Homo sapiens: one gene and its partners. The protein of the gene in region 3 interacts with the protein of the main gene of each other region in a pairwise test. Each region holds a gene or a part of one and is shown on either strand. Other genes may lie near its edges. The genes, in order: ATXN3, KIF1B, GPR75-ASB3 and RNF11.

What was found.
Region 1: the proteins of GPR75-ASB3 (region 3) and ATXN3 interact in binary tests that used the Homo sapiens proteins (3 or more experiments, as listed by UniProt).
Region 2: the proteins of GPR75-ASB3 (region 3) and KIF1B interact in binary tests that used the Homo sapiens proteins (3 or more experiments, as listed by UniProt).
Region 4: the proteins of GPR75-ASB3 (region 3) and RNF11 interact in binary tests that used the Homo sapiens proteins (3 or more experiments, as listed by UniProt).

The regions. Positions count from the first base shown.
Region 1 is NC_000014.9:92,082,583-92,089,582, reverse strand, and holds part of ATXN3 (ataxin-3 reference isoform), read left to right. Parts: intron 1-765; coding exon 766-853; intron 854-6,079; exon of another isoform or gene 6,080-6,170; intron 6,171-6,324; coding exon 6,325-6,457; intron 6,458-7,000. UniProt on the Homo sapiens protein: Deubiquitinating enzyme involved in protein homeostasis maintenance, transcription, cytoskeleton regulation, myogenesis and degradation of misfolded chaperone substrates.
Region 2 is NC_000001.11:10,360,555-10,367,589, forward strand, and holds part of KIF1B (kinesin-like protein KIF1B), read left to right. Parts: intron 1-374; coding exon 375-489; intron 490-1,137; coding exon 1,138-1,271; intron 1,272-2,728; coding exon 2,729-2,790; intron 2,791-4,545; coding exon 4,546-4,691; intron 4,692-4,854; coding exon 4,855-5,094; intron 5,095-7,035. UniProt on the Homo sapiens protein: Has a plus-end-directed microtubule motor activity and functions as a motor for transport of vesicles and organelles along microtubules.
Region 3 is NC_000002.12:53,849,968-53,857,002, reverse strand, and holds part of GPR75-ASB3 (GPR75-ASB3 protein), read left to right. Parts: intron 1-2,137; exon of another isoform or gene 2,138-2,246; coding exon of another isoform or gene 2,247-3,869; exon of another isoform or gene 3,870-4,091; intron 4,092-7,035. Other genes in the region: GPR75 (probable G-protein coupled receptor 75), read left to right, coding at 2,247-3,869. UniProt on the Homo sapiens protein: Probable substrate-recognition component of a SCF-like ECS (Elongin-Cullin-SOCS-box protein) E3 ubiquitin-protein ligase complex which mediates the ubiquitination and subsequent proteasomal degradation of target proteins. Recognizes TNFRSF1B.
Region 4 is NC_000001.11:51,239,241-51,246,275, forward strand, and holds part of RNF11 (RING finger protein 11), read left to right. Parts: intron 1-7,035. UniProt on the Homo sapiens protein: Essential component of a ubiquitin-editing protein complex, comprising also TNFAIP3, ITCH and TAX1BP1, that ensures the transient nature of inflammatory signaling pathways. Promotes the association of TNFAIP3 to RIPK1 after TNF stimulation.

The DNA of each region.
Region 1 (7,000 bases), on a different chromosome or scaffold from region 3:
GCGGATCACAAGGTCAAGAGATCAAGACCATCCTGGCTAACATGGTGAAACCCTGTCTCTACTAAAAATACAAAAAAATAGCTGGGTGTGGCGGCGTGCGCCTGTAGTCCCAGCTACTCGGGAGGCTGAGGCAGGAGGATGGCATGAACCCGGGAGGCGGAGCTTGCAGTGAGCCGAGATCGCGCCACTGCACTCCAGCCTGGGCGACAGAGCAATACTCTGTCTAAAAAAAAAAAAAAAAAAAAAAAAAGAGTATTTAGCAGAGGCCAGGTGCAGTGGCTCATGTTTGTAATCCCAGAACTTTGGGAGGCTGAGGCGGGCGGATCATTTGAGGTCAGGAGTTTGAGACCAGCCTGGCCAATGTGGCAAATGTGCTGTCTCTAACTAAAAATACAAAAATTAGCTGGGTGTGGTGGTGCAGACCTGTAGTCCCAGCTACTTGGGAGGCTGAGGCAGGAGAATCACTTGAACCTGGGAGGCAGAGGTTGCAGTGATCCGAGATCATGCCACTGCACTCCAGCCTGGGTTACAGAGTGAGACTCTTCTCAAAAAAAAAAAAAAGTATTTAATAGTGATAAATCTGCAGTATTCTCTTGTAGTTTTTAAGATCATATTATTCAGTCAAAGAAAAGAGCTCAACTTGAAATATTTCCAGAGTTTAAACAATCTTACTAAGCTTTGATGGGTTGTATCTATTCTTAACATGTGAAACTTCCTTATTACCTATAATATACACTAACTTAAATATTGACAATTTTTTTCCAGTGGTTTAACTTGAATTCTCTCTTGACGGGTCCAGAATTAATATCAGATACATATCTTGCACTTTTCTTGGCTCAATTACAACAGGAAGGTAAGTAACGGCTGAACATTTTGTAATGTTACCTTTCGAAGTAGTTAAATAACCAGGCACATTAGATGACAGTGTGATAAAACTGTTTTTCTGGCAGTGGCAGTGAAACAATCTTTAGTTTTGACGTGGTGATAGGCTGTGATTTGGGTGACGCTGTTCAGTTAGAGTTCTCACTGACACCTGGCCCTTCCTCTTCTGAGGATGCTGCTTTCTTTGCAGCCCTTCTAAGTAATGGCTTTTTCTTTTATACATCACATATCACACGGCTGAGAGGAGGGATAGATGTTTTTCTTCTTTGCCTCTTCTAGGCCACTGTTCTTCCTTATAAACTCCAGTTTCTTTGAAATACATGCCCCTAACGGCTGGGCACGGTGGCTCACGCCTGTAATCCCAGCACTTTGGGAGGCTGAGGCAGGCGGATCACGATGTCAGGAGATCGAGACCATCCTGGCTAACACGGTGAAATCCTGTCTCTACTAAAAATAACAAAAAATTAGCCGGGGTGTGGTGGCGGACGCCTGTAGTCCGAGCTACTCGGGAGGCTGAGGCAGGAGAATGGCGTGAACCCAGGAGGCGGAGCTTGCAGTGAGCTGAGATCGCGCCACTGCCCTCCAGCCTGGGCGACAGAGCGAGACTCCGTCTCAAAAAAAAAAAGAAAAGAAAAAAAAAAGAAATACATGCCCCTAGATTAAACTATCCCTTGTCCTTTTGCACTCATCCACAAGTCTCTTTTCATCAGTGATTTTAGGATCTGACTCGTTGTCTTTTTCTCTACTTCAACTACTTTTATCATTCTTAATTATTTCTGTATCGTCAATCAATCCAGTACCTGCCTCTTAGTTTCAAAATCACTTACTCTTGCTTAGCTATTACCAGTAATCATAACCACTGTCAAATCTCAATTGCAAGCATATTACTCTTTAACTACCACCTCCTATCTTTAAACCATGTTTTGTCTGTTTTTTTATTCCAGCCATTCTTTAAACCCTACTGTGGGGCCCAAGCATTTCCTTTATACGCATTCTTCCTTTCTTCTACTGCTTATTTTCTGTAATCCGTCATCATAATCACTCCATTGCATTCTTCAACGTGTTTCCCCTCTCTCCCTCCATCATACTTGAATGACAAAAATCTCAACCCTGGTTAAACCACATCTTGGCCTTGTCCATTCCTGTACCAGAGTAGCTGGACGTGGCTAAAAAATAACATAAAACATGATGATTGGTTTTACTTTTTTCTTAAATGATCTATCCATCCATTCACCCATCCATCTATCAAAGTGACTAGGCCTATTTCTGAAGCCCAGGCTGGAGTGCAGCAGCATAATCACAGCTCATTGCAGCTCCAAACTCCTGGGCTCAAGTGATTCTCTTGCCTTAGCCTGTTGAGTAGCTGGGACTACAGGCTTGTGCTACCACACCTAGCTAAGGTTTTACTTTAAATTTATTATAATCACAAAATTCAGATGAGCCTTTAGTGCTGTCTGATATTTCTACTATGTTTTCTTAGTGATGTACCACCCTCCAAGGTGTTTATAAAAAATTATGTACCACTCTCCAAGAAGTTTATAAAAAATAATGTGCCACCCTCCAAGGTGACTAATTTCACAGCTTATGTCTTTAAACCTTTAAGCACTTTCCTCTCCCTTACACACCTTCCTTGTGGCTTTCCGTTACATTCTGCTGAGAACATAGAAGCAATTAAAATTATGTTCTTTCTACCAGCAAATTTATCAATTTGCTTATATCTTCACCTGTGCTTTGAGCCTATTTAAATAGATGAATGGTCCCCTACCTCTAACCAAAACCAGTCCCTCACTTGTGGGCTGGATCCCAGCTCTTCTCACCTACTCAAGATGTTCCTGCTTTCATCTCTCCACTCTCTTATATAATCAGTTCCCCCCCCCTTTTTTTGTAATATTCCTATAAGCAGTAAAATAAGCTTTTTATTTCCATTGATTAAAAATAAAAATCCTCTCTTAATTCCATGAAACTCCAGCTGCCTCCCCATTTTTATTTTTTCCTTAGGATTGTCTCTAGTGTGCCTTCTCCTTTTCTTGAACTCTGCCTCCTGGGTTCAAGCGATTCTCCTGCCTCAACCTCCCGAGTAGCTGGGATTACAGGCGTGCACCACCATGACCGGCTAATTTTTTTTTTTTTTTTTTGAGATGGAGTTTCCCTCTTGTTGCTCCGGCTGGAGTGCAATGGCGTGATCTCGGCTCACCGTAACTTCTGCCTCCTGGGTTCAAGCGATTTTCTTGCCTCAGCCTCCCGAGTAGCTGGATTTACAGGCATGTGCCACCATGCCTGGCTAATTTTGTATTTTAGTAGAGATGGAAGGGGTTTCTCCATGTTTGTTAGGCTGGTCTCCAACTCCTGACCTCAGGTGAGCCGCCCACCTCGGCCCCCTAAAGTGCTGGGATTACAGGCATGAGCCACTGCGCCTGGCCCCGGCTAAATTTTTTTTTTTTTTTTTTGTATTTTTAGTAGAGACAGGGTTTCACCATATTGGCCAGGTTGGTCTCGAATTCCTGGCCTCGAGTGATCCACCTGCCTCAGCCTCCCAAAGTGCTGGGATTACAGGCGTGAGTCACCTTGCCTAGCCATCTTTTAGTAATGGTATTTGGAGATCACAATTTGAGTGCTGGCATGCTTATTGCTGCTGGGTTTGTTATGTAGTTATTGTGAATTCACATTTAGGAATATAGGGTTTTTAATTCTTTGATTTTAGATACTTGTATCTTTTTTCTTTTATATTTAAAACCTTGGTTCCTGATGATATCCCTTCTTAGAAACCCTGTCTACCTTTGGCCTTCAGCCCACCATGCTGTGGTTTTCCTAACTTGCTGCCTGCACTTTTCAGATTCCTTTCATGGATCTTAAATATCATCTGTAAATAAGATCTATGTGTCAATAATTACCAAACTTTTATCTTTAGTCTTGACATCTACCCTGAACACCTAGCTTTGACTAACTCCTAGCTTTGGCATCTCCACTTGGAAATCCAAAAAGTGTTTCAAACTGAACATGTCTATGAAAGACTTATTTTTTTCTCTCTATCCATGCTATCCATCAGGTTTTCCATTTCCATAAGGGTGACTCTTGTACTCTGGTTCCTATATATTATACCGACAGAGCAGCCCAGAGTGCTTCTTAACCAGTGTAAGGCCTGTTATGTCCCACCCTCACTCTTTGTCCTTCAGTGGCTTCCCAGCACACTTAGAATAAAATCTGAAGTCTTAGGCCGGGCTTGGTGGCTCATGCCTGCAATCCCAGCACTTTGGGAGGATGAGGGGGCAGATCACTTGAGGTCAGGAGTTGATGAGACCAGCCTGGCCAACATGGTGAAACCCTGTCTCTACCAAAAAATACAAAAATTAACTGGGTGTGGTGTTGTGCACCTGTAGTCCCAGCTACTCGGGAGGCTGAGATAGGAGAATCACTTGAACCCGGGAGGCAGAGGTTACAGCGAGCCAAGATCATACCACTGCACTCCAGCCTGGGTGACAGAACGAGACTCTCAAAAAAAAATTAAAAAAAAAAAATATGTGAAGTCTTGAATAAAACCCAAGATCTTTACCATGGCCCCTGAACAGGGCAGAGTATCCATTCTTCAGACACTCTTCATAGAATACCATGGTGAGCTGGCATATTTATTATACAATACAGAAACAATTTTACTGGCAGAAAACACATTAAACCGTCTAAACTCTGAATACAGTTGTCCTCATAAAAAATGTTCAACATACTATTTTGAGGTTTTCCATTAATAGTTCTTATAATCTTTGTCCCATTATGTGTTAATCCAACAAAGGATATCCAATAACAAACACCAAAGTTTAAGAAAAATGTGCTAGGCGCGGTGGCTCACACCTGTAATCCCAGCACTTTGGGAGGCCGAGGTGGGCAGATCACCTGAGGTCAGGAGTTCGAGACCAGCCCAGCCAACATGGTGAAACCCTGCCTCTCCTAAAAATACAAACATTAACTGGGTGTGGTGGTGGGTGCCTGTAATCCCAGCTACTCAGGAGGCTGAGGCAGGAGAATCGCTTGAACCTCCTGGGAGGCAGAGGTTGCAGTGAGCTAATATTGCACCACTGCACTCCAGCCTGGGTGACAGAGTGAGACTCCATCTCAAATTAAAAAAAAAAAAAAATTAATGATAGAGAAACTTAAATCAGTTAGATTGTTTTAGGTATAGCCCATCCTTGGTTTTTGTGTGTAGCATCTAGCTTGGGGAAACCCTGGATTTCTGGAATCATATTTAGACACAGTCACACTAGACTAATGTAATTCTTTTGGGATGCAAACCACACGTTTGACACCTTAAATAGCTTTTAGGTATTTGGCTTCCCAGCCCCTATTTTTAGTTACAAGGGGTGTACATGTGTGGGTCAGGGTGGGGGTAGCTCTTTCCGCAGATGATTAGTTTTAGCCATGTTACTAGTTATTGCACACATTATCTGTGTCCTCACAGCAGCCCTGTGAGTAAGTGTATTAGGGTTCTCTAGAGGGACAGAACTAATAAGGTAGATGTATATATGAAGGGTAATGTATTAAGGAGTATCGACTCGTATGATCACAAGGTGAAGTCCCACAATAGGCTCTCTGCAGGCTGAGGAACCAGGAAGCCAGTCCAAGTCCCAAAACCTCAAAAGTAGGGAAGCTGACAGTGCAGCCTTCAGTCTGTGGCAAAAGGCCTGAGAGCCCCTGGCAAACCACTGGTGTAAGTTCAAGAGTCCAAAAGATGAAGAACTTGGAGTCTGATGTTTGAGGGCAGGAAGCATCCAGCATGGGAGAAAGATGAAGGCTCAGCAAGTCTAGTACTTCCACACTCTTATTTCTGCCTGCTTTATTCTAGCTGAGCTGGCAGCTGATTAGATGGTGACCACCCAGTTTGAGGGTGGGTCTACCTCTCCCAGTTCACTGGCTTAAATGTTAATCTCCTTTGGCAACACCCTCGCAGACACACCCAGAAACAATAATTTGTAGCCTTCAATCCAATCAAGTTGATAATATTAACCATCACAGGAAGGTACTAGTATCATATGTTTAACAGTAGAAACCAAGACAAATGCAGCTAGGAAGTGGGAGAACTGGGATCAGATGCAGGCAGTCTGATTCTAAATCAGTTGCTGTTACCCACTCTGACAACAGTAAGTGAGTAGCCTGCTCAGTCAAGTACTATATTAGTAGGGCCCTTTACAGACATATTTATTTCTCACAGTCACTCAATGAGACGGCTCTTCCAGTCTTACAATGGAGAAAGTGAGGCTCAGAGACTTTAAGTAACTTACCTTAGACGACTTTACTAGTAAGTATAAGAATCATTATTTGGACTAAAGTCTTTCTGAATCCTCAGCTTGTATTTTTTTCCAGTGTTCTGTGCTGCCTTTTTATCTACTAGTGTTTTACATCAATTTTGAATCTCTTTACTAACTGGTTAGGTTGATTTTTGCCTTTTTTTTTTAGGTTATTCTATATTTGTCGTTAAGGGTGATCTGCCAGATTGCGAAGCTGACCAACTCCTGCAGATGATTAGGGTCCAACAGATGCATCGACCAAAACTTATTGGAGAAGAATTAGCACAACTAAAAGAGCAAAGGTAAAAATGAGGCCTGCAGTATGGAATATATGGTAGTATTTCATTATGAGAATTAAATTTTCATGCTTAGATTGAATATGTGGTCCTTGTGTTGTTGGCGACTCTATTTTGGACCTTATATTTTAGTGAAGTTTATTAGTTTAAACTTGAATCAACTCTTTGAAATACTTAAATATATTAACTTAGTTAGCTGGTATGGTATATTCCTAGCACTTCGGGAGGCTGAGGCAGGCTGATTGCTTCAACCCAGGAGTTCGAGACCAGCCTGGGCAACATGGCAAAACCTCATCTCTACAAATAGTACAAAAATTAGCCAGATGTGGTGGTGTATGCCTATAGTCCCAGCTACTTGGGAGGCAGAGGAAGAAGGATCACCTGAAACTGGGGAGGTAGAGACTACAGTGAGCCATAATCACACTACCGCACTCCAGCCTGGTCGAGAGAGTCAGACCCTGTCTCAAAAAAAAAAAAAAAAAGAAACGGAAAAAAAAAACTTAGTTGGATTCAAATTGCAACACAATCATTATATTACTAGAGCTTATT
Region 2 (7,035 bases), on a different chromosome or scaffold from region 3:
GGCGCCTGTAATCCCAGCTACTCGGAAGGCTGAGGCAGGAGAATCACTTGAACCCGGGAGGCAGAGGTTGCAGTGATCCGAGATTGTGCCACTGCACTCCAGTATGGGCAACAGAGCAAAATTCTGTCTCAAAAAAAAAAAAAAAAAAGCACAACTAAGTGTTCCTTAATGATGGGTGGGGTTGGGAGCAAGAGGATGGGGACCTATCTTTTCCTCCTAGGAGATAAGGGTTCCTCTCTGTTATTAGAGTTTGATAAACTGAAAGTGTCTGTTGGTTGGCGTATGGTTCTTTAGGATGATTGACAGTGGCAGTACCTGGACTAACGTGACTTTAGCTTCTTTTGGATGATTCCCTCTTGTCTTTCTGACCTTAGGACCTTCTACCGCTTTGAGGCTGTGTGGGATAGCTCTCTGCATAACTCCCTTCTTCTGAACCGAGTGACACCCTATGGAGAAAAGATCTACATGACCTTGTCGGCCTACCTAGAGGTGAGGAGACTTGGAACTTCAGTTGATGCCAACAGTCAGCCCTGAACAGTGTGCAGGTTACAGCAGGAAGTGGTCAGCGAAGATTCCACTTGTTTTGTCCTCTTTCTTCCTCCACATCCTTAAGTTTTTCATTTTATTATACATTGCTAACTCTTCTGATTATATTAGACTCTATTCCTGGGTTCTGTTTACTCAAAAAATCACATGACTCATTGCAGCTTCAGCTTTAGTAGCCTAATCACCATTGTTTGAAGAATGTGTGATTTTTAAGAAAATGTCACCTCTTGTTTTTGTAGTTGTGGACAGAGTGTAATAGTGGTTAATAGCCCAGACCCAAGACCCAGCCTGTCGGTTCAAATCCCTGTGCTGCCACTTACTTCCTCTATGTCCTTGGAGAAACTCTCTTTGCCTCAGTTTCCTCACCTATCAGGAGAAACAACATTTACCTCAGATAAAAATAAATGCATCTCTAAGGAGTACTACCTACTCTTGCACATATTATCCATTGGGTGGCTGTTGAAATAATTGGTGGAGCTAAAATCCTTCAGTTCTCACAACTGGGACTCGCTTTCCAAATACGTTCGTGTATAGACTCTAGTCACAGTACTCTGCCTGCACTTCATCAGCACCTACCCTGTCTGCTTTCAGCTGGATCATTGCATCCAGCCGGCTGTCATCACCAAGGATGTGTGCATGGTCTTCTACTCCCGAGATGCCAAGATCTCACCACCACGCTCTCTGCGTAGCCTCTTTGGCAGCGGCTACTCAAAGTCACCAGATTCGTAAGTTTTTCACACAAGTTAGCTTCCAGTGTGTTTGTTCAGTACAACAGAATCATTAGTCCTTAAGTATTCTCGGCTTACTGTCTCACGGTTAGTTTACAGTTTATGAACCATTTTGGTAACTGACACCTGGAATGTACTGACTTGCATGCTGACATTTAATAAAATGTTGATGGATGGACGAGTTATGAGGGAAGGAAGGAATATTACATTGTGAACACGTCTAAAACAATTTTGCAAAGACTAAATTTGCAAAGACTTTTAAATGTCATCATCATTATTTCTAACAGAGTACCATTGAAATTTTCTTCTTTTTAAGATTTGTTATGCATATTTAAGGCATACAAAATATGTCAGGAATAATACAGTGAAGGCCATACACAGTGGCTCATGTCTGTAATCCCAGCACGTTGGGAGGCTGAGGACAGAGAATTGCTTAAGCCTAGGAGTTTGAGACCAGCCTGGGCAACACAGACCCCATCTCCACAGAAAATTTTAAAATTACCCAGGTGTGGTGACACACACCTGTAGTCCCAGCTACTCAGGAGGCTGAGGTGGGAGGATCACTTGAGCTTGGGAGGTTGAGGTTGCAGTGAGCCATGATAGAGCCACTGCACTCCAGCCTGGGTGAAACAGTGAGACCCTGTCTCAAAATTTAAAAAAAAGAAAAGAAAAAGGAAAAAAAAAAAAAAGAAAGAAACAATACAATGAATACCTGTGTATCACCGCCCAGCTTAAAAATAAGTGTTACTAATACAATAGAAGGTATTATACCTCCTACTACTCACAATCCCCAGAAGTTGTTGATTATCATTTCATTCTAGTCATTGTTTCCCTCATATCGTCTCTCTTATAGTAAGAAAAGACAAATTTTTAGTTTTCACATTTATATTTTAAATTTTCTAGTTTATCATTCAATTTTATTCACCCTATTGAAATAAAGTGTTTAAAAGATAGAGATGAGGTGGGGCATGGTGGCTTATGCCTATAATCTCAGCACTTTTTGATGCCAAGGTGGAAGGATCACTTGAGGCCAGGAGTTCAAGACCAGCCTGGGCAACATAAGGAGACCCTATCTCTACAAAAAAACTTAAAAATTAGCTGGGTATAGTGGTGTATGCCTGAAGTCCCAACTACTCAGGAGGCTGAGGCAGAAGGATCACATTAGTCCAGGAGTTCGAGGCTGCAGTAAGTTGTGATTACATCACTGCACTCCAGCCTGGGTGACACAGGGAAACCCTATCTATAAAAAAATTAAATTGAGATGAAAGCGGACTCCTCTAGGAAAAGGTATGCTACTTAGGTTCAAAATAAGAAAAGAGCGGTGACAAATAAGAAATGCCTGGAATTATATTTGAGTCCCTGCAGAGAAGACACTATTTTAAGTAGCAGAAATTGAAATTTTCCTGTTTTTGTGCTTTAAGAGATTAAACAATTGTTTTATTTTCTTCAAATAGGAATCGAGTCACTGGCATTTACGAACTCAGCTTATGCAAAATGTCAGACACAGGTAGTCCAGGTAAGCTCTTGTGGATTGAGGAGGTGATAGTTATCTTTGTGTATGTTTCAAGTATCCTGTATTTAGGCTGGGCACGGTGGCACACACCTGTAATCCCAGCGCTTTGGGAGGCCAAGGCGGGTGGATCACCTGAGTCCAGGAGTTCAAGAGCAGCCTGACCAACATGGTGAAGCCCCCCTTTCTACCAAAAATACAAAAATTAGCCAGGTGTGGTGGCGCGTGCCTGTAATCCCAGCTACTCAGGAGGCTGAGGCATGAGAATTGCTTGAACCTGGGAGGCAGAGGTTACAGTGAGCCGAGATTGTGCCACTGCACTGCAGCCTAGGTGACAGAGTGAGACTCAGTCTCAAAAAAGAAAAAGAAAAAAAAATCAAATTATTAAGTCAGATTTGTTCTGTATTCTTTTTAATGTGTTTTTAAACTGCTCTTGTTCCTCTAGCTAGGCGGAGTTAAGCAGCACTTAGCATTTCTATGTTTGTAAACCGAAACATGAACAAAAGTTAAGGTTTTCTAATAGCATTTGATTAATGTGAGTTTGAGTCATTTTACAGAATATACATGGAAAACAAGTCAGGGCCCACAGGCAAGACTTAGATAAGTAAAGAAGACTTTGAGTATGAATCCAAGTAGCACCTAATTATTATACTATCCAGATAGTTTCTTGAGGAATTTTTTTAATTAATATAAATTCATGTATTTAATATGTAAAACCAGCATAATACTAAAAAAAATTAACAGGAAATAATAGAGGCTAAAGTTCTCTGTCATCTGTCAGCCAGTGAGCTACTGAGTGTGTGTATGTGTGTGTGTATTCCCTTCCGTCTTTTTAAAAATTTTTATTTTTAGGGACAGGATCTTTTTTTTTTTTTTTTTTTTTTGAGACAGAGTCTCGCTGTGTCACCCAGGCTGGAGTGTGGTGGCGCCATCTTGGCTCACTGCAACCTCTGCCTCCTGGGTTCAAGTGATTCTCCTGCCTCAGCCTCCTGAGTAGCTGGGTTTGCAAGCACCCACCACCATGCCCAGCTAATTTTTGTATTTTTAGTAGAGATGGGGTTTCACTATGTTGGCCAGGCTGGTCTCGAACTCCTGACCTCAGATGATAGCCCACCTCAGCCTCCCAAAGTGCTGGGATTACAGGCGTGAGCCATCACGCCCGGCCCCATAGTGTATAGACTACTACAGACTATTTAATATTTCTGCATTTTCACCTAACATCATAATTTTATCATTTTCTTAAATTGCATCCCAGTCTTCATAATTATCAAAGAATGTAAAACTCAGTTTTTAAAAACGTTCAGTTGCTTTGCTATTTAAACAAAATCCCATATATCTTCAGACCAAACTGTCTTAGTTTGCTACGTATAAGAATTATTAATTCGTGGCCAGGCGCGGTGGCTCACGCCTGTAATTCCAGCACTTTGGGAGGCTGAGGCAGGTGGATCACGAGGTCAGGAGATCGAGACCATCCTGGCTAACACAGTGAAACCCGGTCTCTACTAAAAATACAAAAAATTAGCTGGGCATGGTGGCGGGCACCTGTAGTCTCAGCTACTCGGGAGGCTGAGGCAGGAGAATGGCATGAACCCAGGAGGCGGAGCTTGCAGTGGGCTGAGATCACGCCACTGCACTCCAGCCTGGGCAACAGAGCGAGACTCCATCTCAAAAAAAAAAAAAAAAGAATTATTAATTCGTTTTGACCTAAACTTGGAATTGAATTTTTTTTCTGAAACAAAAACTTGTTTCCTCTTGTCTTAGGTATGCAGAGAAGGAGAAGAAAAATCTTAGATACGTCAGTGGCATATGTGCGGGGAGAAGAGAACTTAGCAGGCTGGCGGCCCCGTGGAGACAGCCTCATCCTTGAGCACCAGTGGGAGCTGGAGAAGCTGGAGCTCCTACATGAGGTATCCAGGGGCAGGGTTGTTCAGATGCAAGAACTCTCGGACAAGATTGCCAAAGTATCAGTCTTCCTCCCCGCTGCTGCATGTGATCATAGCTTTTCACTTTTCTCTCCTGAGGTCTTAACGAGCTTTGTGTTTGCTATAGCAGTAGTATTGATCTTCTCAGGTGGAAAAAACCCGCCACTTTTTGCTGCTGCGTGAGAGACTTGGTGACAGCATCCCCAAATCCCTGAGCGACTCGTTATCCCCCAGCCTCAGCAGTGGGACCCTCAGCACCTCCACCAGTATCTCCTCTCAGATCTCAACCACTACCTTTGAAAGCGCCATCACACCTAGCGAGAGCAGTGGCTATGATTCAGGAGACATCGAAAGCCTGGTGGACCGAGAGAAAGAGCTGGCTACCAAGGTGTGAATCCCTTCCTCTTTGCTGAACGTCTTCCCACAAGGCTCCACAAACTAGCCTCTCGGTTTATTCATTTTCAACACCTTTGTTCGAGGTGTTTGAAGGCCTGTGATAATACTGTGAATGTAGAAATAAAAAGACGCAGTTCCTACCCTCAACAAGCTTACAGGGCCAGGCACAGTGCCTGATGCCTATTATCCCACCACTTTGGGAGGCTGAAGCAAAGGGATTGCTTGAGCCCAGGAGTTAAAGACAAGCCCAGGCTAACATAGTGAGACCTTGTCTCTACAAAAACAAAAATTAGGCCAGGCATGGTGGCTCACACCTGTAATCCCAGCACTTTGCAGGGCTGAGGCAGGTGGATTACCTGAGGTCTGGAGTTCGAGACCAGCCTGGCCAACATGGTGAAACCCTGTCTCTACTAAAAATACAAAAATTAGCCAGGCGTGGTGGCGAGCGCCTGTAATCCCAGCTACTCAGGAGGCTGAGGCAGGAGAATTGCTTGAACCCAGGAGGCGGAGATTGCAGTGAGCCGAGATAGCTCCACTGTGCTCCAGCCTGAGCGACAGAGTGACACTCCATCTCAAAAAATAAAATAAAATAATAAAAAATTAAAAAATTAAAAAATATAAAGGTTGCAGAATATTAGGTCACAAGCATATAATAGAGATGTGTGTTTCAAATGCTATGGGAGTCAGAGGAGAAGTGTCTATGGTGGGGAGCTCATGAGCTGACCTTGAAAGGATGCGCAGGAGGGAGGCAGCAGTGTCGACACCTGCGTGATCAGGAGGGAGGCAGTGGTGTCCTGCGTGATCAGGAGGGAGGCAGCGGTGTCTTGCGTGATCAGGAGGGAGGCAGCGGTGTCCTGCGTGATCAGGAGGGAGGCAGTGGTGTCCTGCATGATCAGTCTTGGGGAATTCACGTGGGACTGGAACAGGAGGTGTGGAGTGAAGAATCTTGTATACTGCACTGAAGAGTTTAGAGTGGATGATGGGAGCAAGGCAGAAATATGTTAAACAGGTATTTGTGTTTTAGAAAGATTTCTGGCGAGGGGCGGTGGCTCACGCCTGTAATCCCACCACTTTGAGAGGCCGAGGCAGGTGGATCACAAGGTCAGGAGATTGAGACCATCCTGGCCAACATGGTGAAACCCCGTGTCTACTAAAAATACAAAAATTAGCCGAACGTGGTGGCGTGCGCCTGTAGTCCCAGCTACTAAGGAGGCTGAGGCAGGAGAATCGCTTGAACCCAGGTGGCGGAGGCTGCAGTGAGCCGAGATCGCGCCACTGCACTCCAGCCTGGGCAACAGAGTGAGACACCATCTCAAAAAATATATATATTTCTCTGGCAGCAATAAAGAGAATGGATTGATGGTGAAGAGATACACTGAGGAAGGGAGAATTCTTTATCTTTATTACAGTAATCTGATGAGAAATGATAAAAGCTTTTTAAAATTTTATTTTTTTTGAGATGGAGTCTCACTCCTGTCACACAGGCTGGGATGCAGTGGCATGATCTTGGCTCACTGCAACCTCCACTTCCCAGGTTCAAGCGATTCTCCTTCCTCAGCCTCCCAAGTAGCTTGGAGTACAGGCATGTGCCACCACACCTGGCTAATTTTTGTATTTTTAGTAGAGACAGAGTTTCACCATGTTGGCCAGGCTGGTCTTGAACTCCTGACCTCAGGTGATCCACCCGCCTCAGCCTCCCAAAGTGCTAGGATTACAGGTGTGTGGACGCCCAGCCAGATAAAAGTTTTTTAAAGAAGGCAGAGGTGGCTGGGTGCGGTGGCACACGCCTGTAATCCCAGCACTTTGGGAGGCTGAGGTGGGCGGATTGTGAGGTCAAGAGATCACTATGATGTTTTTATTTTTTATTTTTATCTTTATTAAATTTTTTTTTTTTTTGAGATGGAGTCTTGCTCTGTGGCCCACGCTGGAGTGC
Region 3 (7,035 bases):
CCTGGGCGACAGAGCGAGACTCCGTCTCAAAAAAAAAAAAAAAAAAAAAAAAAAAATTGTCTTTCTCATTATATAGGTATCAAAAGTGTTCAGAAACAAATATACAGCCTTTAAGTGGAAATAGAGCTATCTGGTACTATTTTTAAAAAATTCTAACCATCAAGAAACAAAAGTTCAGGATTTTCTTCTCTTATGGAACTTTTATTTGAAAGGAAAGTATAGAAAAGTTGGTCTCACTTTCCAGTGGACAAATTCACCATATCGTCCTGATCTGTACCATATGAATGTTAAGAATATAGATTAAGTTATCTTTTTCCTTGATTAAGGACACCAGTCAATTATATGGATTTCCCAGGACTGGTATATGTCTGATAGTCACTGGCATGGCTGTATCTGTTGTTAAATGTGGAGAGACTTCTGTATTGGGTAGTCCATAGCTGCTAATTGGAGCCCCAGGTAATCCCTGACTGACCTGGTTCATTCCGCTGTACCCCCTTGATCTGGCAACTAAAGGGTTAACAGCTGGAGGCTTCTGGGATCCAGCTTGAGCTGGTGGTTAAGTACACTGAACATCAGCCCTGGACCTCTGCAGTGCCACTTATTGTTCCTAAAATTCTAGATTAAGGCAAACCCTTTTTGGTTGTCAAGAACATAGTGCTGTCTCCAAGGAACAGCTTAGTCGGTCCCACCAGAAGCATCTGTTGGGAGCAGGTTGGGCACCAACCCTTGCAGGACTTTGGGATTTGGGACAATGTAGATTTGTGTGAGTGCACATTAAGTCTCATTGCAAAATAGAAAAAAAAAAGTTAGGAAAAAGGAGCAAGAAGTTATTCTTTTAAAGTAGAGACTGCCTTACTCATCGTAGCACCTAGCACCTGGCGTAATGCTGGCATATGGTATGCACATAATTAATATAAATTGAGCGAACGAATGCAGGAATGGGTGCATGCCTCCTGCTTCACCATCAGGATATTCTTGTTGGGATAATGGTAACTCACATTTATATAGCAGTTTAGACTTTACAATGTGGTGCTTTGCACCTTGTAAATTTCTAATATAATTCCAACATCCTTGGTTACTTCCAGTTTTCCGTCTCACATGTAGTCCTACACAAGGTTTTTTTCCAAAGGAGAATATGTAGTTAATTGGCCAAGAAATTGCAAGCTGGGGGAAAAATTATAAATACTGGGAAATAAAGGATTCTTCATAGGGAACGAAACAGGGTTTGTTAATGATTTATGGGAATTATGTGAAGGGCCACATTATGCATCAACAATACCCTCCAGCCTATATTTCAAGCACATGCAGTTTTTTGCCGCAGTGCTTCTGCTGCAAAGACCTACCCCCACTTCTCTTAGCCTGTCTGTCCCCACTCCATACCCCCGACCTTTCATCCAGCTGGCCTGTGCTTGCTAAAGCTCCCTTTATCCTTTCCCAGCTCCCTTTCCATGTTGGAGTAGGTTCCCCCCTTCCATGCTCTCATAGCACCCTGCAACCTTATTAGGCTGTAATTATTACATAGTTAGATTGATCTCCAACTAGATTGTCATCTCTTTGGTGGAGAGATTACGTTCTTGTGTATCTTCAGTGCCTGACACAGAAGTGTTTCTAAAAGTAACATCTGCACACCCCTCAAACAGAATCACAAGGGGCGAGGCCAAGAAATCTGCTCTCCAAGTGATAACTTAAACTTTTTAACATGCTCTTCAGGTGACACTTAAACTTGTTTGAAAACCTCTGTGTCATAAAACTAAATATTAGCTGGATGAATGTATTTGTATCTTTTTCTGTGTTGGCCTTTGTGAGGAGAAATGCTGTCTATGCACCAAATCAGAGCTGAAAAATTCTAGTGTTTTGTTAAAAAAAAAAAAGAGAGAGAGAGAGCTGGGTTTGGTGGTGCATGCCTGTAGTCCCAGCTACTTGGGAAGCTAAGCCAGGAGGACTGCTTGAGCACAGGAGTTCAAGTCCAGCCTGGGCAACATGGTAAGACCCCATTGCTAATAAATGAATAAATTTTTCTCTCAAGGTGAGAGATACTAGTACTAATACTACTACTAATAATGAGATCACTGTATGAATTCCTTTCTGTTTCTACATTAATCCCTTTCTGTTTCTGGGTGTGCATTTTTGTGTGTAGGCTTATCTGTCTTGGGCCTCTTTTGTCACATATTGCTCATCTGTGAGCTGAGGCCCTGACTCACTGAGTATTTTTGGGGAGCAGAAGAAGGAGACATTTCTCTCCGAAAATGAACTCAACAGGCCACCTTCAGGATGCCCCCAATGCCACCTCGCTCCATGTGCCTCACTCACAGGAAGGAAACAGCACCTCTCTCCAGGAGGGTCTTCAGGATCTCATCCACACAGCCACCTTGGTGACCTGTACTTTTCTACTGGCGGTCATCTTCTGCCTGGGTTCCTATGGCAACTTCATTGTCTTCTTGTCCTTCTTCGATCCAGCCTTCAGGAAATTCAGAACCAACTTTGATTTCATGATCCTGAACCTGTCCTTCTGTGACCTCTTCATTTGTGGAGTGACAGCCCCCATGTTCACCTTTGTGTTATTCTTCAGCTCAGCCAGTAGTATCCCGGATGCTTTCTGCTTCACTTTCCATCTCACCAGTTCAGGCTTCATCATCATGTCTCTGAAGACAGTGGCAGTGATCGCCCTGCACCGGCTCCGGATGGTGTTGGGGAAACAGCCTAATCGCACGGCCTCCTTTCCCTGCACCGTACTCCTCACCCTGCTTCTCTGGGCCACCAGTTTCACCCTTGCCACCTTGGCTACCTTGAAAACCAGCAAGTCCCACCTCTGTCTTCCCATGTCCAGTCTGATTGCTGGAAAAGGGAAAGCCATTTTGTCTCTCTATGTGGTCGACTTCACCTTCTGTGTTGCTGTGGTCTCTGTCTCTTACATCATGATTGCTCAGACCCTGCGGAAGAACGCTCAAGTCAGAAAGTGCCCCCCTGTAATCACAGTCGATGCTTCCAGACCACAGCCTTTCATGGGGGTCCCTGTGCAGGGAGGTGGAGATCCCATCCAGTGTGCCATGCCGGCTCTGTATAGGAACCAGAATTACAACAAACTGCAGCACGTTCAGACCCGTGGATATACCAAGAGTCCCAACCAACTGGTCACCCCTGCAGCAAGCCGACTCCAGCTCGTATCAGCCATCAACCTCTCCACTGCCAAGGATTCCAAAGCCGTGGTCACCTGTGTGATCATTGTGCTGTCAGTCCTGGTGTGCTGTCTTCCACTGGGGATTTCCTTGGTACAGGTGGTTCTCTCCAGCAATGGGAGCTTCATTCTTTACCAGTTTGAATTGTTTGGATTTACTCTTATATTTTTCAAGTCAGGATTAAACCCTTTTATATATTCTCGGAACAGTGCAGGGCTGAGAAGGAAAGTGCTCTGGTGCCTCCAATACATAGGCCTGGGTTTTTTCTGCTGCAAACAAAAGACTCGACTTCGAGCCATGGGAAAAGGGAACCTCGAAGTCAACAGAAACAAATCCTCCCATCATGAAACAAACTCTGCCTACATGTTATCTCCAAAGCCACAGAAGAAATTTGTGGACCAGGCTTGTGGCCCAAGTCATTCAAAAGAAAGTATGGTGAGTCCCAAGATCTCTGCTGGACATCAACACTGTGGTCAGAGCAGCTCGACCCCCATCAACACTCGGATTGAACCTTACTACAGCATCTATAACAGCAGCCCTTCCCAGGAGGAGAGCAGCCCATGTAACTTACAGCCAGTAAACTCTTTTGGATTTGCCAATTCATATATTGCCATGCATTATCACACCACTAATGACTTAGTGCAGGAATATGACAGCACTTCAGCCAAGCAGATTCCAGTCCCCTCCGTTTAAAGTCATGGAGGCTATAGGATCTTATGTAAACAGTTTTTGTTTCTGATAGTAATGGACTTTATTCTAACTTGAGATCAGTGGCGGATCAAAACCTACAAGATTCAACTGAAAAGTTGGCAGTTATGGTTTTCTTTCATCTGATGTGTCAGTATCTGTTGATTTGCTTTGTAGTTTGTTGACATCTTAAGATTTGATGTGAAAGTTTTAGATTTTTTACCCTGCTCTTTGCCTCAGTCTTTTGTACCGAGCCTTTAAATAGATGCCAGGAATGAAGCTACTGTGTTAAAGTAGAAAGTCAACCGATTATCATGATTTGAGTCAGTGTTATGTGACTTCAAAATAAGGTATTGACTGGATTTTTTTTAAAGAATGTGAAAATATGATTTTTGCTGAGGTGTTATTTTTATTAATTGAATTGTAAATTTTGATTTTTTGAAGTGTTGAAATCGGGAACACTACACCTTGTTGGTAGCAGGTTGATTTGAATAAATAATATATTGTTAGCTGGGTGCAGTGGCATGCACCTGTAGTCCTAGCTACTTGGGAGGCTGAGGCAGGAGGATCACTTGAGCCCGGGATTATGAGTCCAGCCTGGGCAACACAGCAAGACCCTGTCTCTAAAGGAAATGTATATATTCTTTTTTTTTTTTTTTTTTTTTTTTTTTTTTTGAGACGGAGTTTCACTCTTGTTGCCCAGGCTGGAGTGCAATGGCATGACCTCGGCTCACCGCAACCTCCACCTCCCGGGTTCAAGTGATTCTCCTGTCTCAGCCTCCCAAGTAGCTGGGATTACAGGCGCATGCCACCATGCCCGGCTAATTTTTGTATTTTTATTAGAGACAGGGTTTCTCTGTGTTGGTCAGGCTGGTCTTCAACTCCTGACCTTAGGTGATCCGCCTGCCTCGGCCTCCCAAAGTGCTGGGATTACAGGCATGAGCCACTGTGCTTAGCCAGAAATATATATATTCTTAAGGCAGAAAAGGTGATAACTCTGTCTTTACCAAAAACACTCACACAGGTATTAGGTACTTTTCTTTCATAGGACAGTCAACTAAGAATATAGTATTATGATTATTGCCATTTCTTATTATAGACATGTTTTATGTCAGTTGAGTAGGTTTACAATTCTTTTGAAAAGAAATATATTTGGGCCGGGCATGGTGGCTCACACCTGTAATCCCAGCACTTTGGGAGGCTGAGGCGGGTGGATCACCTGAGGGTCAGGAGTTCGAGACCAGCCTGGCCAACATGATGAAACCCCGTCTCTACTAAAAACACAAAAATTAGCAAGGCATGGTGGCAAGCACCTGTAATCCCAGCTACTCGGGAGGTTGAGGCAAGAGAATCGCTTGAACCTGGGAGACAGGTTGCAGTGAGCTGAGATCGTGCCATTGCACTCCAGCCTGGGTGACAAGAGCGAGATGTCATCTCAAAAAAATGAAAAAAAGAGAAAGAAAGAAAGAAAAGAAATATATTTTTGCTTGTTAAAAGTGAATTATTTATTTATTTATTTTTTTCCTGAGAGGGAGTCTTGCTCTGTTGCCCAGGCTGGAGTGCAGTGGCATGATCTCTGCTCACTGCAACCTGCGCCTCCCGGGCTCAAGTGATTCTCCTGCCTCAGCCTCCTGAGTAGCTGGGATTACAGGCGTGTGCCACCATGCCCAGCTCATTTTTGTATTTTTTAGTAGAGACAGGTCTTGAACTTGTCTTGAACTCCTGACCTCAGGTGATCTGCCTGCCTCGGCCTCCCGAAGTGCTGGGATTACAGGCATGAGCCACCCCAACTGGCCCAAAAGTGAATTGTTTCTGAATGATCTTATTCAAGAAGCCTAGTGAAGAGGACTGCATCTATGGTAGAGGTGCACTGTTCCCAGGAGAGAAGGCACTGCGGTAATCATCTCGGTGTTCTGTGGAAAACAGTGTGGACTCCTGTCATGCATTGGGCAATATTTATTATTGCTTAACAAGGTTTACAGATAAGACTGGGAATGTTTTGATTTATGTTTTCCTTCTGTGTGAGAAGAGTTTACTAACCACCTGACAGTATTCAAGTAACTATTTAGAAATGACTTCTTTTTTGTCTTTATTTATTATTATGGTAGAAAAATTCTCAAGATAATCTATTTTCAAACTAATCATTTTATTTCTCTCCCATTAATCTTAAAGTGGAAATGGGCAGAAAGAAAAAATAGATTTAAGTATTTCTATACCTGAAACTAATTTTACTATATGCTCTGAGATTCCTAGCATAACAACTGTGAACTCATATTTTATTGTAAAAATATTTTCAGTATACAGTTAGTATTTGAACTCACTAGGTTTTTAAATGTTAGACACACAAGATGAGCATCAATATACAACACCTATCTTTATAAATTGTTATATTCAAGAGTTATTATTGCAGATTGGAAGGTACTTTGTTCCTTTGCGTAAAAGTCTTTTTTTTTTTTTGTAGAAACAGAGTCTTACTCTGTCACCCAGGCTAAAGTGCAGTGGCATGATCTCAGATCGCTGCAACCTCCGCTTCCCGGGTTCAAGCGATTGTCTTGCCTCAGCCTCCAGAGTAGCTGGGATTACAGGTGCCCGCCACCACTCCTGGCTAATTTTTGTATTTTTGGTAGAGACAGGGTTTCACCATGATAGCCAGGCTGGTCTTGAATTCCTGGCCTCAAGTAATCCACCCACCTCGGCCTCCCAAAGTGCTAGGATTACAGGCATGAGAAACCACATCCAGCTGAAAGGCATTTAATTTATAGTTTCCTCCCTCAGCTCTCCCCAAATACAGGGGTCATGAGAGGTATAGAGAAGACAGAATAGATATTCAATTAGAACTCTGCTCAACCTTATCTTATAACTGTTACCTTTCAGTATTGATCAGTTATTTCTATTTTTGAGATTTAAATAGGCATAGATTTTCTTTTGTTTTCTTTTTCTTCTAAATTTTTTTCTTGCCACACCCAGGGGCAGCCTCGAATTATTTTGTTTTTAAGTTCACCTTTTAGACTGATTTGCCTACCTACTCCCTCCTTCTTTCCCTTTCTCCCTCCCTCCTTCCCTTTTTCCCTTTTCTTTTTTTTAAGATGGAGTCTCATGCTTGTTGCCCAGGATGGAGTGCGGTGGCACAATCTCGGCTCACTGCAACCTCCGCCTCCCAGGTTCAAGCGAT
Region 4 (7,035 bases), on a different chromosome or scaffold from region 3:
TAGAATTTATGGAAACTGTGTTTGCCTTTTCCAGAAGAACTAGGTGATGATGAGGGATGAGGGGTTTTTGGTGTCATGAAGGAACTTTTTTTGGAAATGTTATATTTTTGACAGTGGGAGTTTTTTATGGTTGCAGTTTCCTGAAGTGAATGACGCAGACTAATATACAAATTCAGTATCAATCAGAAGAAAATTACTTTAAAACATGGGAGCATAAAAAGAAACTTTTGGAGAAAAAGTATTGTCCCCCACCCCCAAAGAAATAAGATCTGTCTTAGGAATGGTTATTTTAGATGATCTGAGAAACAGCAATCCAAGGTTATTTATTCATTTATTTGAGTTGAGAATCTCCCTCTGTCATCCAGGTTAGACTGGATTGCTCACTTGGCAGCCTCAAACTCCTGGCTTCAGGTGATCCTCCTCCCTCAGCCTCCCAAAGACTGGGATTACAGGCGTTAGCTACCTCACACAGCAGATTTATAGTATTCTCAGTTGATAAAAGTAACTTTTTCAACAAATTATATGTAATTAACAGTGAATAGCTGATTGTAAAGGAACATGTTCTCTTGAGGTGAGTAGTTAAAAGATGTCATTGTTTGCTGCTTTATATGTACAATGTACATATAATGACAAGAGCCAGTTACAGTTATTTCCTATTAACATCTGACAAATTTGTTTTTATTTATTTTTGCCTTAAAGTAAATCCCTGCACCATTATGATCCAAGTTTGTAGGAAGTGTATATTTCTTTCCATGGTTTCTTTTGTAGCCTCCTAACAGTTATCCCTGCTTTCACCCTTGTCCTCGCTAAGGCCTGTCCTCAATACAACAGCCACAGTTATTTTGGTAAAACTGAGCATGACAGTCTCCCCAACCCTCTGTGTGGATCCTTGTTTCATTCAAAGTAAAAATCAGATTCCTTATAGTGTCGCATAAACCCTACATAATCTGTACCCCTTGTTTCCACGCATGTCCCTTGACACCTACAGCTAACCCCTTTGTTGGCTTCCCTCCAGCTTCCCTGTCCTCATTGCTATTCTAGGACCTTTGTCCTCCTTATTCTGGAATACTCTTCCCCAGATTTCATGGCTGACTGACTCCCTTACCTCCTTCAAGTCTTTTCTCACTGCCCCCTTAAACCTTCTCTGACCACCCTGTTTGAAAGTGCAACCTGCCCTAATAACCTGGAAGTCCCTCTCACCCTGTTGTTTTCCCCCCCAATACCATTTATTACATTCCAACATGTGTTAGAAAGTTGCGTTGTCTATTACCTGTCTTCTCCCACTAGGTAGAAAGGAGGAAAGGGGATTTTTTTTTTTAATTGGTGTTTCCTAAGTACTTATAACAGTGCCTGGCACATGTTAGGCATTCAGTAATTTGGTTGAACGAATGAATAGATTTCTTTTAAATGAACTAATGTATTTGAGGCAGGTATAGTTGCACTGCTTACAAGAACTCTGCATATTCCTAGTGCCATTTTTGCTTCTATATTGTAGATCAGGTTTTTTTTTGTTTGTTTTTTTGTTTTGTGACTGGGCCTCCCTGTGTTACCCAGGCTGGTCTCTCTCTGTATATATATGTTTGGGTTTTTTTGTTTTCTCTTTTTTGAGACCAAGTCTCACCTTGTTGCCCAGCTAGAGTGCAGTGGTGTCATCTTGGCTCTGCCTCTTGGGTTCAAGCGATTCTCCTGCCTCAGCCTCTGGAGTAGTTGGTACTACAGGCATGCGCCACCAAGGCCAACTGATTTTTGTACTTTTGGTAGAGATGGAGTTTTGCCATGTTGACCAGGCTGGTCTCAAACTCCTGACTTCAGGTGATCTGCCCACCTTGGCCTTCCAGAGTGCTGGGATTACAGGCGTAAGCCCCTGAGCCTGCCCTTTATATTTTTTAAATTTAAAAAATAGAGACAGGGTCTCATTATGTTGCTAGTCTCAAACTCCTGGGCTCAAGGGATACTCCTGCCTCAGCCTCTTGAGTAGCTAGGGTTACAGGTGCACTTCTACTCTGCCTGGCTCAGGTTTTAAAAAAAATTTATTTCCTTTAGAGATGAGGTCTTGCTGTGTTGCCCAGGCTGGAGGGCAGTAGCTATTCACAGGTGCAATTATAGTGCATTGCAGCCTCCACTTCCTGGTCTCAAAGGATCTTGTGGCTTCAGCCTCCTGAGTAGCTGGGACTACAGGGTTACACCACCGTGTCTAGCTGTTGTAGATCAGTTTTAAGGAATCCTAAAAAGTCAAATTCCAGTAATATTAAATACAGCAATTGGTTTACACTAAGTGTTAAGTGATTTAGGGGTTTTTACCGTGTATATATATCACCGCAAGATATTTATGTAATGGGAAAGTACTTGGGGGAGAAAAAGAAAGTACTTGAATCCCTATTCTTGAAGTATTGGATGCAAAGAGATTTAGGGTGTTTGTCAAATTAGAAAGTAGAAACAAATTTGTCGCACCCTCTACCCAACTCCCTTATTCCTAAATGTTTAAAAATAATACAGAGGAAATCTGCCCAGCGAAGGCAATCTTGGAAGGACAGTGAGTGGGAGGATAAGCCAGGAAAGGCTGAAGAAGGGAGGTCCATGAGAGGGGGAGGCCAGGTAGGCAGCCCAGCCCTGAAAGGCATATGTAAAACAGCTTGAGGTACCCCTGTGTCACTGTCAAGAGCTTTGTTATGTGCTAAATTGAGGGAGGCACTTTGTTAAAAGAGTGTAATATTCATTGAACAACAAACCATGTTACATTTTCTAATCTGAATATATAAAAATAAGGATAGGTGTCTCTCAATTTTGCAGTAGTTATATAGTTTGAGATTCGCCAGTCTTCTTCCCCGACCTATACTTTTTGATTGATACATTTGAAATTTTAAAATCCTGAGAAAATAAGTTTGTATAGCATTGAATGCAAGTATAGCTCTGCTTTTAGAGTCAGATTGTCCTGTGTTCAAATTCTGGCTCTGCCGCTTACATGTAAAATATGAAAAAGGAAAGAATTTATCAGATTGTTTTGGGGAGCTTTTTTGACAAATAAGAAAATGTAACATTTTGGATATTTCAAATTGTGTCTGCATAAAGCTTTCTTCAAGATACCTTTTTTTTTTTTTTTTTTTGGCTGGGCACAGTGGCTCACACCTGTCATCCCAGCACTTAGGTGGCAGAGGCAGGAGGATCACTTGACCCCAGGAATTCGAGACCAGCCTGGGCAACAAAGTGAGACCCCCATCTCTATTAAAATACCAAACAAAAACAAAAAACAAACAAAACCAAAAACCCTCTTTTGTTGTTAAAAGGATTGGTTTATCCTGTAGAATGCACTAAAAATAACCCCCTTCCTTATAAAAAATCTAGAATGTACTGCTTATTTTTAAGCATGCAATGCTATAATGTTTTGTGGGGGATGGGCTTGTTTTTTTTAGAGATGGAGTCTCACTTTGCCCAGGCTAGTTTCGAACTCCTGGGCTCAAGTGATCCTCCCACCATGTCTCCCAGTGTTGGGATTACGGATGTGAGTCACTGTGCCCTGCCTGTAATGGTATATTAATGCCTCATTTTCCTGATAACTTACGAAGTTAAATTTAGATAATTAAAGGGTTGTGTTTTTTTATTAGCATTTTGTTTAACATTTGGGTGGAAAATATCTCCAAATTTATTTCACGTATCTAGGCCTTATTATACAATTATTCAGCTTTTAACAATTTACCTTTTTGAAGTTTTATCCCTCCCCTTCTTTATGCTCAAGAAGTTCAGCCTTCTTATTGAGGGGCAGATCAACTAACTCCACCTTTGTTAATAAAGCCTTCACTGACCATTTTTTTCCTGTCTCTGCTGATTTGTCATGTACAGTTTTTTTGTGTTTGTAACATTTATCTGGAAATCATATATTGCCTTATTAGCTTTTGTTGCTTTAACAGTTGTTTCTCCACATCAGTTTCCTCAAGAATGAGAATGATACATTAAACTTGTAAGATATCTTAGTGGAGTAGAATGTTACCTTCCATATTGTAGACACCCAGTGAATATTTGATGATAGACTAAATTAGAACTGTGACTTCTTACCTTGTAAGGTCACCATCATAATTGTCCTCATCAGTTCTTACAGCAACATAATTGATGTCTCCTCCTCATTCATTTTATACCATGTTGCCAGATAAATTTCATCCCGGATCAGATCACTTGCCTCATAATCCTTAATGATTGTTATTATTATTATTATTATTTTTTGAAACAGAGTCTTCACTCTGTTGCCCAGGCTGGAGTGCAGTGGTGCCACCTCAGCTCACTGCAGCCTCCGCCTCCCGGGTCCGAGCAATTCTCCTGCCTCAGCCTCCCGAGTAGCTGGGATTACAGGCATGCGCCACCACACCCAGCTAATTTTTGTATTTTTAATAGAAATGGGGTTTCACCATATTGCTCAGGCTGGTGTGCAACTCCTAACCTCAGGTAATCCACTCACCTTGGCCTCCGTAAGAGCTGGGATTACAGGCGTGAGCCACCACGCCCGGCCCTTAATGATTCTTTATTAGGACTAACCACTGAAGATATCTGACTTAGCATTCAAAGTCATGATTTGGCTCTACATATACTTTTTCAGCTCTTCATAGCCTTGTGCTTTCTTTTATACAACCTGTATACTCCAGTCATACTGAGCAGTTTGCTGTATTCCATGTATGTCTTCTGCTTTCCTGTCTTTGCCCATTCTGTATCCATTGCCCAGAATGTTCTTCCTTAATCCTTCCCAGTCTCATTTCTAATATCCAGGGCCCAGTTCAAATGCCAAGAATCCACGAATTCTGATTTCTCCTACATACACTTTTCTTAATCTGAACTCCTTTATTCATGCACCATTCTTAAGACACTTTACCCTTTTAATTTTAATTATTTGTGACAGTGTCACATCTGCTCTTTTAGAATTCAAGTCTGGTTCATTTTCACATTGCTAGAACTACAATTTTCACAAAGCACGCACTTATACTTTAGTGAATGTAATGATCAGCATTTTGCTGTAAGAGTGTGCAATTGTATGGTTGTTAGTGTCTATTAAGCATTCCCAGAATCCTGTGCTTTAGTGTTTGGCCTATCACTTCTAATTTATAAAGTACGTTGAGCTTTGGGAAAGTTAATTTCATTATATATTTTTTGAATTTGTTTTTTTTTTTGTTTGTTTGTTTGAGACGAAGTCTCGCTGTGTCACCCAGGCTGGAGTGCAGTGGCGCGATCTCAGCTCACTGCAAGCTCCGCCTCCCGGGTTCACGCCATTCTCCTGCCTCAGCCTGTCCCGAGTAGCTGGGACTACAGGTGCCCGCCACCACACCTGGCTAATTTTTTGTATTTTTAGTAGGGACGGGGTTTCACCGTGGTCTTGATCTCCTGACCTTGTGATCCTCCTGCCTCGGCCTCCCAAAGTGCTGGGATTACAAGCGTGAGCCACCGCGCCCAGCCTGAATTTGGTTTTGTGTTCCATGAAGTTCAGCTTGCCTAGGTGACTTTTATAAATAAGTAACCAGTTATTTGTTATTTGTGTGACCCCATTGTTGCAGGATTTTTCTTTGTTTCTGCCTGACCTCTCATTCTGAATGTGCTTTAATAAAGGCTGATTTTTTGGCATTAAGATTGTATGCATCACTAAGAGTAAGATAGTCTGTTCAGAGTTTAATTCTAGAGCTAATTATAGGGTAACTTGAGAAGATGGAGATGGGATGGTGAGTTACTTGGTACATAAGATCTGAGCACTTGATTTTCTTAAAATATTTTTTAGGTAATAGTAGAAACCTTTGTTGCAGAATTTTGATCTTTAAAAGTTTTAATAGAAATACTTATGTAGATTGGGATTCTTTTTCTTTCTTTGAGACATAATCTTACTCTGTTGCCTAGGCTGAATGTAGTGGCATGGTCACGGCTCACTGAAGCCTCAACCTCACGGGCCCAAGCCATCCTCCCACCTCAGCCTCCTGAGTAGCTGGGACTATAGGCGTGCACCACTTTGCCTGGCTAATTTTTATTTTTTGTAGAGACGGGTCAAGCAGTCCTCCCATCTCAGTCTCCTGAATAGCTGGGACCACAGGTGCATACCACCACACCCAGCTATTTTTTGTATTTTTAGTAGAGACGGGGTCTCACTATATTGCCCAGGCTGGTCTCAAACTCCTGAACTCAAGCAGTCCACCCACCTCGGCCTCCCAAAGTGCTGAGATTACAAGTGTGAGCCACCATGCCCACCCAACAGCCTTTTTTTTTGGAGATGGAGTCTTACTCCATCGCCCAGGCTGGAGTGCAGTGGTGCAGTCTCAGCCCACTGCAACTTCTGCCACCTGGGTTCAAGCGATTCTCATGCCTCAGCCTCCTGAGTAGCTGGGATTAGAGGCAAGCACCACCACACCTGGCTAATTTTTTGTATTTTTAGTAGAGATGGGGTTTCACCATGTTGGCCAGACTGGTCTTAACTCCTGACCTCGTGATCCACCCACCTAGGCCTACCAAAGTGCTGAGATTACAGGCGTGAGCTACTGGGCTGGACACCAACAGCCTATTTTTAATAACCCATATGAGTACAGGACAGAAATACATCCCTAACTCTGTACCTGAAGTAAGGAAGGTAATACATAAAAGACATATTTGCAAACGACTTGAGGCAAGAAAAGAAATACAACACATCTCTAATTCTGATTGTATCTGCAATCAACCTCTTATCACTTCCCTCTTCATGTGCAGAATTTACCTTGGCTGAGACACAGTCAAGAAAGAAGACAGGTGGCCAGGCACAGTGGCTCACACCTGTAATCTCAGTACTTTGGGAGGCTGAGGTGGGCGGGTCACCTGAGGTTAGGAGTTTGAGACCAGCCTGACCAACATAGAGAAACCCCGTCTCTACTAAAAATGCAAAAATAGCCGGGTGTGGTGGCACATGCCTGTAATCCCAGCTACTTGGGAGGCTGAGGCAGGAGAATCTCTTGAACCCAGGAGGTGGAGGTTGTGTTGAGGCTAGGTTGCGCTGTTGCACTCTAGCCTGGGCAACAAGAGTGAAACTCCATCTCAACAACAACA